2 separate regions of the Homo sapiens genome follow, and region 1 is linked to region 2. The links come from fine-mapping of genetic effects on gene expression. A gene starts in region 2. The other region holds a variant in brackets. All regions are shown on one strand. Distances are from middle to middle.

What was found. PIP is the estimated chance that this variant, and not a neighbour inherited with it, causes the effect.
Region 1: its variant is the best candidate, but not a certain one, in a credible set for the expression of ARRDC5 in CD8 T cells (CEDAR, PIP 0.71).

Annotation. Positions count from the first base shown.
Region 1 is chr19:4,926,553-4,931,552 of GRCh38, reverse strand. It overlaps UHRF1 (ubiquitin like with PHD and ring finger domains 1), which reads right to left. Exons shown (of 17, transcript NM_001048201.3): 3 at 2,077-2,331; 4 at 677-837. Among named protein-coding and RNA genes, the nearest start is that of MIR4747, 3.6 kb to the left of the region's middle. RefSeq lists an enhancer at 473-972. The variant C/G (reference allele first, on the strand shown) is at 2,866.
Region 2 is chr19:4,899,618-4,905,137 of GRCh38, reverse strand. ARRDC5 (arrestin domain containing 5) reads left to right here and starts at 2,242. Exons shown (of 3, transcript NM_001080523.3): 1 at 2,242-2,565. The coding sequence starts at 2,313. It also overlaps a transcript of UHRF1 not described here.

The DNA of each region.
Region 1 (5,000 bases), 27 kb before region 2:
GAGGTTGCAGTGAGCTGAGACCACGCCATTGCACTCTAGCCTGAGTGACAGAGTAAGACTCTGTCTCGAAAAAATAAAATAAAAATAAAATAAAATAAAAATACAAACATTAGCTGGGTGTGGTGGCGGGCACCTGTAGTCCCAGCTACTCAGGAGGCTGAGGCAGGAGAATCGCTTGAATCCAGGAGGCAGAGGTTGCAGTGAGCAAGTCAACCAATGTCCGTGTTTAAGCCACACCGTCTGTGAAATCTCACGATGGCAGCACGGACAGACGCAGCCACCATCTGTGTCCACTGGTGTGTGGACCCCGAACTTGGCAGGTAGGAAGTGCCCAGTAAACACTTGTGCAAAGACTGGAGACTGACGTTAGGGGTGGGGATGAGGGAGAGATGACAAACCCGGAAGATGGAATAAAACAGAAAAACTGATGGGGTGGCAGTTTCAGCCACTGATCGAGCAGAACCCTCCGCGGAGACACAGGAGGGGGCAGCCGGCTTCGGGTCCCCAGGCTAGTCCCCAAGTGGGCAGCCTCGTATGCTGTTAGGAATTCGAGGATGGGGCCCCAGATCCTGATCACCATCTCGAGACAGTGCCAAGCTCTGGCCTGAACACCCGCAGCCAAGGATGCGCGTCACAGAGCCTGAATACCCAGGCCCGCCCACCTGCCATGACTCACTCGTCGTATTTCACGTGGTAAATGACGTCCTCCTCCAGCGCCGGCCTGGACGTGGAGCTGCAGGGCTCGTCCCGGGAGGGGGCCTTCCGCGTCACCCTGACCACCTGCGCCTCAAACCACGCCCCCATGTTCGTGTCCCGAGCATCGACGTACTCATTGACCTGTGAGGAATGAGGGAAGTCTGGCATCCCAACGGGGTGAGGAAAACTGACGGGAGACCACCTTGGTTCTCGGACACTGGGATGCTCTGGAACCAGGGCGCAAACTCGAATGCCCACAGCGAGGTTTCTCCTCCCTGGCTGGGAACCGCTGACCATGAGAAACCAGCCCCGGCAGGGGTGACGGGGATGCGGGGCCAGGGGGCATGGACTGTCTTAACAAAGGCCCCTGCGGCTCTGCTTCAGCCACAGCTGCTGGGAGGCCCTGAGAGACCAGAGCTGCCCATTTGTCAAGAGAAGCTGGAAATCCAGGCAGGGCGTCGTGGCTCACGCCTGGAATACCAGCACTTTGGGAGGCCGAGGCAGGTGGATCGCTTGAGCCCCGGAATTCAAGACTAGCCTGGGCAACATGGTAAGACGCTGTGTCTACTAAAAAATAAAACAGACTGGGTGCAGTGGCTCACACCTATAATTCCAGCACTTTGGGAGGCTGCGGCGGGAAGATCACTTGAGGCCAGGAGTTCAAGACTAGCCTGGCCAACATGGCGAAATCCCGTCTCTACAAAAAATACAAAAATTAGCCAGGTGTGGTGGCACATGCCTGTAATCCCAGCTACTCAGGAGGCTGAGGCACGAGAATTGCTTGAACCCAGGAGTTGGAGGTTGCAATGAGCCGAGATGGCACCACTGTACTCCAGCCTGGGCGACAGAATGAGACCATGTATTAAAAAAGTAATAAAATAAAATAAAATTAGCTGGGCGTGGTGGCACATGCCTATAACATCAGCTACTCAGGAGGCTGAGGTGGGAGGATCACTTGAGCCCAGGAGTTCGAGGCTACAGTGAGCTGTGATCACACGGCTGCACCCCAGGCTGGGCAACAAAGTGAGACCCTGCCAAAAAAAAAATAAAAAAATAAAAAAGCTGGAAACCCAGATCTTTCTGTGACATTTCCTGATCTTACATGGTAGCAGCAAGTTCAGAAACGTCACAGCCACTGCAAGCTTCACGGAGAAGACACCTGCAGGCCCCGAACAGGACTCTGCTCTAGAGGTCCACAAAGGAATCCCAGGGTACCATGTTCCCCTCAAGGAACGTGCAGGAAACCACCCCTTGGCCATTTCTGCCCAGCCAGAGCTAGAGAGGCGCGTGGGAAGCCCCTCCTGTGAGCCCTGGGTATGCAAAGACCAGAATGGCAGGGAGAACGTCCAACCCCAGAGCAGCTGCGGAGGGGAGGCTCACCTTGTACAGCCCCAATTCCGTCTCATCCCACATGTCCTCATCGGCTGGCCTGCTGTCAGTCTCGGCGGCCGCCTCACCGTGGGTGGAGGACTTGTCTGACTCACTCTGGCCCAGGCAGCAGCCGGAGTCGGTGTCGGAGAGCTCGGAGTCCCGCTCCTTGGTGCTGTGGGGGAGCACGAGGCTCTGGCGGACCAGGAGCTGGATGGTGTCATTCAGGCGGACCTCGTAGTCGAAGAGGGTATGGCCGTCCTCCATCTGCAGGGACACCAGAGGCAGACGCTGTTTAGCCACCAAATGCCAAGTGGGCATCTGTGGGCACCAGTGATGAACCAAACACTGTGTCCCAGCCCTTGTGGGGGGGGGGCAATCTGCATCAGAGTAAAGAGCCATGATACCTGGGCCATGCCAGGGGGCTGTCCCGCTCACAAGCGGCACCCCAGTCCCTTCCCTCAGGGTCTCAGGCCCCTCTAGCGAGGGCTTTTGGCACTGCATGCAGGAAGCACCCAGAAGCACAAAACATCATCACGGGGCACCACGCACACATGGGGGTCTTGGGAGTTTTTCCTAATACTTCGTGCTTACGGCAGCTTTTGTGACAGTGAACATGTGTCACCTCTGTCACTGCTTCTCAACCAAACATGATTCAGACCCCGGGGGACGCTGGGCCACGTCTGGGACATTTGTGGTTGTCGCCACTGGGAGAAGCTCCTAGCATGGAGTGGGTGGAGGCCAGGAACGCTGCTCGGCACCCTGCAGTGCCCAGGACGGTCCCACTGTCCAGTGTCGAGA[C/G]AGAGAGACCCTGTCCCACCTGAACAGCAAGAGGCACATGCCAGCATCCATGAGCTTCCTATGAGCTTCCTGGGTAAGGCTCCAGCGCCAATCTCGCCTGCCAGGGCACCTCCTCTGACCCTCAGCTCCACCCGCCCTTTGTGCGCTTTTATCCTGATGCGCTCAACCCCTGGGGCCTGGCTCCACAGCCTGCCCCTCGGGTCACCTGACTCAGCAGGTATGCAAGGAGGAGCTCATCACCTGAGCTGTATCTGGGGGCTGGAGAAGCCGAGGCATTTTGTCAGAAGCTGCCCCTTCACACTCCACCAACACCCAACAAGGACCCTCTCCCGGTGGTTTGCCATCTAGGACCCCCCCCTCCTGATGATTTGCCATCTAGATGCCCCCAAGGCAACAAGTTCCTCTCCCCCGGCACTGCAGACATTGGGGCCAGGTCCTGGACCATTCTCTGGGGCGGAGCCATCCTGGGCACTGCAGGGTGCTGAGCAGCGTCCCTGGCCTCCACCTACTCCATGCCAGGAGCACCCCGTAGTTGTGACGACCACAAATGTCCCCAGACATCATACGGTATGGGGTGGGGGGGTGTGAAGTCACCCTGGGTGAGACCCCCTGGTGAAGGATTCCACAGGCCCCCAAGAAACTCCTTATCCCATGATGCTGTGCCCTACTGAGGTCCCAGGAGGCTGCACGCATTAAAATCCACACACTGAGTGGGAAGGGAGAGAGGAGGTGAATCCCAGGAGCTGGGGGTCCCCCTGGTTTCCACGTCTGCCCCGTCAGGAGTTTATCCCGTGCCTGGTGCGAGCAGGATTGGACTCGGTTGGTTTCCATGTAATTAATACAGGTTTCTCGACCTAAGCATGGCTGACATTAGGGCTGACCACTCTGGGATGGGCTGGGTCTCCCCCTCTGGGCACTGGACCGTGGGGCCGTGCTGGGCACTGCAGAGGCACTGCAGCGGCCCTGGCCTCCACCAGTCATGACAACAACCGATGTCCCCCAGACATCACCATGTGTCCCCTAGAGGCAGAAATGCCCTGGTTCAGGAGCATCCTTAGGAAAAGGGAGGAGAGAGACCTTAGGAAAAGGGAGGAGAGAGACATACATAGAATGTCAGCTCTTCCTCCTTTCGCCCCTTGGGGATCCAAGGCCTGACGGCTGTTCAAATGCAAACAGCATGGGGGTCACAGTGAAGGCCAAGGCCCTTCTCTGCAGGCTTTCTTTCTTTGTTCACCATAAACCTAAGAACCTGATAAAGGCTGACTCATCTTTTCCAGAAAAAAATTTTTTTTTTTTTTTTTTTTTTTGAGATGGAGTCTCACTCTGTCGCCCAGGGTGGAGTGTAGGGGTGTGATCTCAGCTCACTGCAATCTCCACCTCCCAGGTTCAAGCGATTCTTGTGCCTCAGCCTCCTGAGTAGCTTGGGACTATAGGCATGAGCCATCACACCCAGCTAATTTTTGTATTTTTAGTAGAGACAGGGTCTCGCCATGTTGGCCAGGCTGGTTTTGAACTCCTACGCTGAAGGGATCCACCCACCTCGGCCTCCCAAAGAGCTGGGATTACAGCATGAACCACAGTACCCGGCCTGTTTTTTTTTGTTTTGTTTTGTTTTGTTTTTTGTTTTGAGGCGGAATCTTGCTCTGTCGCCCAGGCTGGAGTGCAGTGGCACGATCTTGGCTCACTGCAAGCTCCGCCTCCCAGGTTCGCCATTCTCCTGCCTCAGCCTCCCAAGTAGCGGGGATTACAGGCACCCGCCACCAAGCCCGGCTAATTTTTGTATTTTTAGTAGAGGTGGGGTTTCACCATGTTAGCCAGAATGGTCTCGATCTCCTGACCTCGTGATCCGCCCACCTCAACCTTCCAAAGTGCCGGGATTACAGGCGTGAGCCACTGCACCCGGACTTTTTTTTTTTTTTCCTTTAGAAAGGATCTCACTCTGTTGCCAAGGATGGAGGGCAGTGGTGCAATCGTAGCTCACTGCAGCATCGAACCTTGGGCTCAAGTAATCCTCCTGCCTCAGGCTCCTGAGTGGCTGGGACCACAGGCACACATCACCCATGCCCAGCTAATTTTTTTTAGAGATGAGGTCTTGCTGCTTTGCCCAAGCTGGTTTTGAACTCCGGGGCTCAAGC
Region 2 (5,520 bases):
CTCAAAAAAAAAAAAAAAAAAAAAAAAAAGAAAGTTTACGAATTTGTGTTGAGCCATATTCCATCCTGGGCCAAATGTGGCCCGTGGGTCAGGGGTTGGATGAGCTTGACTTAGGGAAATAAGAGGCCAATGCCCACAAAAGCTATCACATAAAATAATGCAAGATACAGCCAAGACAAGAAATAAGGCCTGCCAGGCTAGAGAATGGGTACTTCCTAGCCCCTCCTATGATTCAATGTCCCTCCCTCTCAGGCACCAGACCATGTGCAAATCAGGTGCCAGGAATAATTGTTAGAGTGCAAAGGGCTTCAGTTTCCCTTTTGCAAAATGATACATTCTCAGAGGTCATTAAGTCATTCAACAAACTTTTATTGATTCCACCCCCCACACCCACTCCTGGCTGAGCCAGATCCTGCCTGGGTCACGCAGACATTGATGGGCACAAAGTTCACTTAGACAAGGTCTCACCCTGGAGGGACTTCCCATCCAATGGGGGAGATGCAGGCATAAAGAGAAATGTCAGCCAGGCGTGGTAGCTCATGCCTGTAATCCCAGCACTTTGGGAGGCCAAGTGAGGCGGGTGGATCATGAGGTCAGGAGTTCAAGATCAGCCTGGCCAAGATGGTGAAACCCTGTCTCTACTAAAAATAACAAAAATTGGCTGGGTGCGGTGGCTCACGCCTGTAATCCCAGCACTTTGGGAGGCCAAGGTGGGCGGATCACGAGGTCAGGAGATTGAGACCATCCTGGCTAACATGATGAAACCCCGTCTCTACTAAAAATACAAAAAATTAGCCAGGCATTTGTGGCGGACGCCTGTAGTCCCAGCTACTCGGGAAGCTGAGGCAGGAGAATGGCATGAACACGGGAGGCGGAGCTTGCAGTGAGCCGAGATCGCACCACTGCACTCCAGCCTGGGTGACAAAGTGAGACTCCAATCTCAAAAAAAAAACAAAAACAAAAACAAAAAGAACAAAAATTAGCCGGGCACGGGGGCAGGTGCCTGTAACCCCCATGCCCGTAATCCCAGCTACTTGGGAGGCTGAGGCAGGAGAATCGCTTGAACCCAGGGGGCAGAGGTTGCAGTGAGCCGAGATCACGCCACTGCACTCCAGCCTGGGCAACAGAGTGAGATTCCACCTCAAAAAAAAAGAGAAATGTCAATCATGCAGGGAGTTGCTGCTTCCTGATGGTGTCGATGTTCAGATTAAGCACACACTGCCCTGATCAACTTCAGTGCGCACCAGATTTCAGGTCCTGGCCATATCTCTATGTTTTTTCCAATATAGACCAATATAAATGTAGAGTCTTTAAGATGAAAATGAGTGTGTATGCACCTGGGCACAGTGGCTCACAACTGTAATCCCAGCACTTTGGGAGGCCAAGGCAGGCGAATCATGTGAGGCCACAAGTTCGAGACCAGCCTGGCCAACATGGTGAAACCCCGTCTCTACTAAAAATACAAAAATTAGCTAGTTGCAGTGGCACTTGCCTGTAATCTCAGGTACTTGGGGGGCTGAGGTGGGAGAATCGCTGGAACCCAGGAGGCAGAGGTTGCAGTGAGCCGAGATCACACCATTGCACTCCAGTCTGGCTGACAGAGTGAGACCATCACAAAAAATAAAAATAAAATAAATAAAAATACCAAAAAAAAATTAGCAAAGCATGGTGATGGTGCATGCCTGTAATTCCAGCTACTCAGGAGGCTGAAGCAGGAGAATTGCTTGAACCCGGGAGGCAGATGTGGCAGTGAGCCGAGATCGCGCCACTACACTCCAGCCTGGGTGACAGAATGAGACTTTGTCTCAAAAAAAGAAAAAGCCCAGGTGCAGTGGCTCACGCCTGCAATCCCAGCACTTTGGGAGGCTGAGGTGGGTGGATCACGAGGTCAGGAGATCGAGACCATCCTGGCCAACACAGTGAAACTCTGTCTCTACCAAAAAATTAGCTGGGCATGCTGGCATGCACCCGTGGTCCCAGCTACTCAGGAGGCTGAGGCAGGAGAATTGCTTGAACCCATGAGGCGGAGGTTGCAGTGAGCCAAGATGGCACCCCTGCACTCCAGCCTGGGCTACAGGGTAAGACTCCATCTCAAAAAAAAAAAAAAAGAACCAGTGAGGACTACAGGTTTCCCAATCAACCACCCACCCTAAACAACAGTTTTGCCTCCCCTCCTGGCCACTGGGGTCCCCACTTCCCGGAACTCTGAGCTGAGTGATGTCATAGATGGATTACCTCACTAGGGCCAACGAACCGGGAATTTCAGGGACATGGGGGACAGAGAGGAATGTCTCTCTACCCCCCAACCCCCCATGTCTGTGGTGAAGTCGATCGAATTAGTGCTGCCCGAGGATAGAATCTACCTGGCTGGCTCCAGCATAAAAGGGCAGGTGATCTTAACCCTGAACAGCACCCTGGTGGACCCCATAGTGAAGGTGGAGCTCGTGGGAAGGGGTTACGTCGAATGGAGTGAAGAAGCCGGGGCATCCTGTGATTATAGCAGAAATGTTATTTGCAACAACAAGGCAGACTACGTGCATAAGACAAAGACATTCCCAGTGGAGGGTAAGGACGAGGCCAACAGCCACCCCTAGCCATGACAGGAACCTGGGTCTGGAAAATAAACACATCCGAGAGTCAATCAACAAAACTCTAGGGCTATCAGAAATAGGGAGTGGCCTGATTTCTCCCTAGGAGGGAGGCCATGAAGAACAATGACCATCAGATACACAAAACGCAAAAATAACAAGACATAAGGAGCTGATCGGAACCCCGATATTCAAAATGAAGGTTCAAAGTAGTCTCCTTGGAAAATGCTCAATCCAACAACTGCCTTTGAGAGGCCTCTGAGAAGTCTTATTCTTTTACAGATAAGTTTCACTCTGACAGCAAAACCCCAGGAGACAAAGTAGGCAGTCCTGCATTCATGGGGAGAGACAGTGGAGGTGGGCCAGGCACAGTGGTTCATACCTGTAATTCCAGCACTTTGAGAGGCCGAGGCAGGTGGATCACTTGAGGTCAGGAGTTTGAGACCAGCCTGGCCAATATAGCGAAACCCCATCTCTACCAAAAAATACCAAAAAATTAGCTGGGCGTGCTGGCACGTGCCTGTAATCTCAGCTACTTGGGAGGCTGAAGCAAGAGAATCACTTGAACTCGTGAAGGGGAGGTTCCAGTAAGCTGAGATCGCACCACAGCACGCCAGCCTGGGTGACGGAGCGAGATTCCCTCTCAAAAAAAGAAAGATAGTGGAGGTAGAAGAGCAAGGGAGACCTTCCAGAGAAGGAATAACTAGTCCCCAGTTCCACCAGGTCAGATCTGAAATCTGAACAAATGTCAGAGAGTCTGCTGAGTTGTCGGGGAAATTATATGTCCATTGCAAAATGTGTTTGTGGGGATATTCCCAGGTATTAAGCAGTCAAGCAGAACACGTGGCCAACACTTGGCTGAACAAAGTGTAATTTAATTTAATTTATTTCTGTATTTATTTATTTGTATCTTATTTATTTATTTATCTATTTTTTGAGACACAGTCTCGCCCTGCTTCCCAGGCTGGAGTGAAGTGGCACCATCTCGGCTCGCTGCAAGCTCCGCCTCCCGGGTTCAAACGATTCTCCTGCCTCAGCCTCCTGAGTGGCTGGGATTACAGGCACCCGCCACCATGCCCAGCAATTTTTGGTATTTTTAGTAGAGGCAGGGTTTCACCACGTTGGCCAGGCTGGTCTCGAACTCCTGACCTCGTGATTCGCCCACCTCGGCCTCCCAAAGTACTGGGATTACAGGCATGAGCCACCAGGCCTGGCTTATGTATTTATTTTTGAGACAGGGCCTCGCTCTGTTGCCCAGGCTAGAGGCCAGTGGTGTGATCAAAACTCACTGCAGCCCCAGCCTCTCTGGCATAAGCGATCCTCTCACCTCAGCCTCCTGAGTAGCTGAGACCACAGGCACATGGCACCATGCTTGGCTAATTTTTGTTTATTTTTTGTTTTCGTTTTTTTGAGACGGAGTTTTGCTCTTGCTGCCCAGGCTGGAGTGCAATGGCGCAATCTCGGCTCACCGCAACCTCCTGGGTTCAAACGACTGTCTCTTAAAAAAAGAACTAGCAATTTTTTTTTTTTTTGAGACTGAATCTCACTCGTTGCCCAGGCTGGAGTGCAGTGGCGTAATCTTGGCTCACTGCAACCTCCACCTCCTGGGTTCAACCGATTGTCCCGCCTCAGCCTCCCGAGTAGCTGGCACTACAGGCGTGTGCCACCACTCCCAGCTAATTTTGTATTTTTAGTAGAGACGGAGTTTCTCCATGTTGGTCAGGCTGGTCTTGAACTCCCGACCTCAGGTGATCCGCCCACCTTGGCCTCCCAAAGTGCTGGGATTACAGGCATGAGCCACCACACCTGGCCATTTTAGACTTTAAAAATTTAGATGAGATGGTCTGTTCCACCAGAGGAGTACTCTGCAAAGAGGGAACAACCAAGCACAGAACTGAGTGATAGGAGGGACTCCAGCCATGCAAATATCCTGGGGACAAATGTCAACTTACCAGACACTAATACTGAGCAATTATGTGACCTCTCTGGCTCTCAGTTAACCAATCTATAAAATGGGAGTAGGAAGAGGTCCTATTTCATAAGATTGTGTTAAGGACTTAATGATTTAATGGCACATAAAGCGCTTAGAATAATGCCAGGTATACAGTAAATGCTTAAAAATTGCTATTTCTGGCCAGGCACAGTGGCTCACACGTGTTATCCCAGCACTTTGGGAGGCCAAGGTGGGCAGATCACCAGAGGACAAGAGTTCAAGACCAGCCTGGCCAACATGGTGAAACCCCGTCTCTACTAAAAATACAAAAAATACAGCTGCTCAAGAAGCTGAGGCAGAAGAATGGCGTGAACCCGGGAGGCGGAGCTTGCGGTGAGCCGAGATCACGCCACTGCACTCCAGCCTGGGCAACAAAGCGAGACTCCGTCTCAAAAAAAAAAAAAAAAAAAAAAGAAAGAAACAGAAAAAAAAGACTGCTGGCCGGGCGCGGTGGCTCATGCCTGTAATCTCGGCACTTTGGGAGGCCAAGGGAGACGGAGGTTGCAGTGAGCCAAGATTGCACCACTGCACTCCAGCCTGGGCAACAGAGTGAGATTCAGTCTCAGAAAAAAAAAATGTTGCTAGTTGTTTTCTTTTCTTTTATTTATTTACTTTTTTGGAGACGGAGTCTCCTCTGTCGCCCAGCGTGGAGTGCAGTGGTGCAATCTTGGCTCACTGCAAGCTCCGCCTCCCGGGTTCTCGCCATTCTCCTGCCTCAGCCTCCTGAGTAGCTGGGACTACAGGTGCCCGCCACCACGCCTGGCTAATTTTTTTTTTTTTTTTTTTTTTTTTGTAGAGACGGGGTTTCACCGTGTTAACCAGGATGGTCTCGATCTCCTGACCTCATGATCCACCCGCCTCGGCCTCCCAGAGTGCTGGGATTACAGGCGTGAGCCACCGCGCCCGGCCGCTAGTTCTTTTTTTAAGAGACAGTCTTTA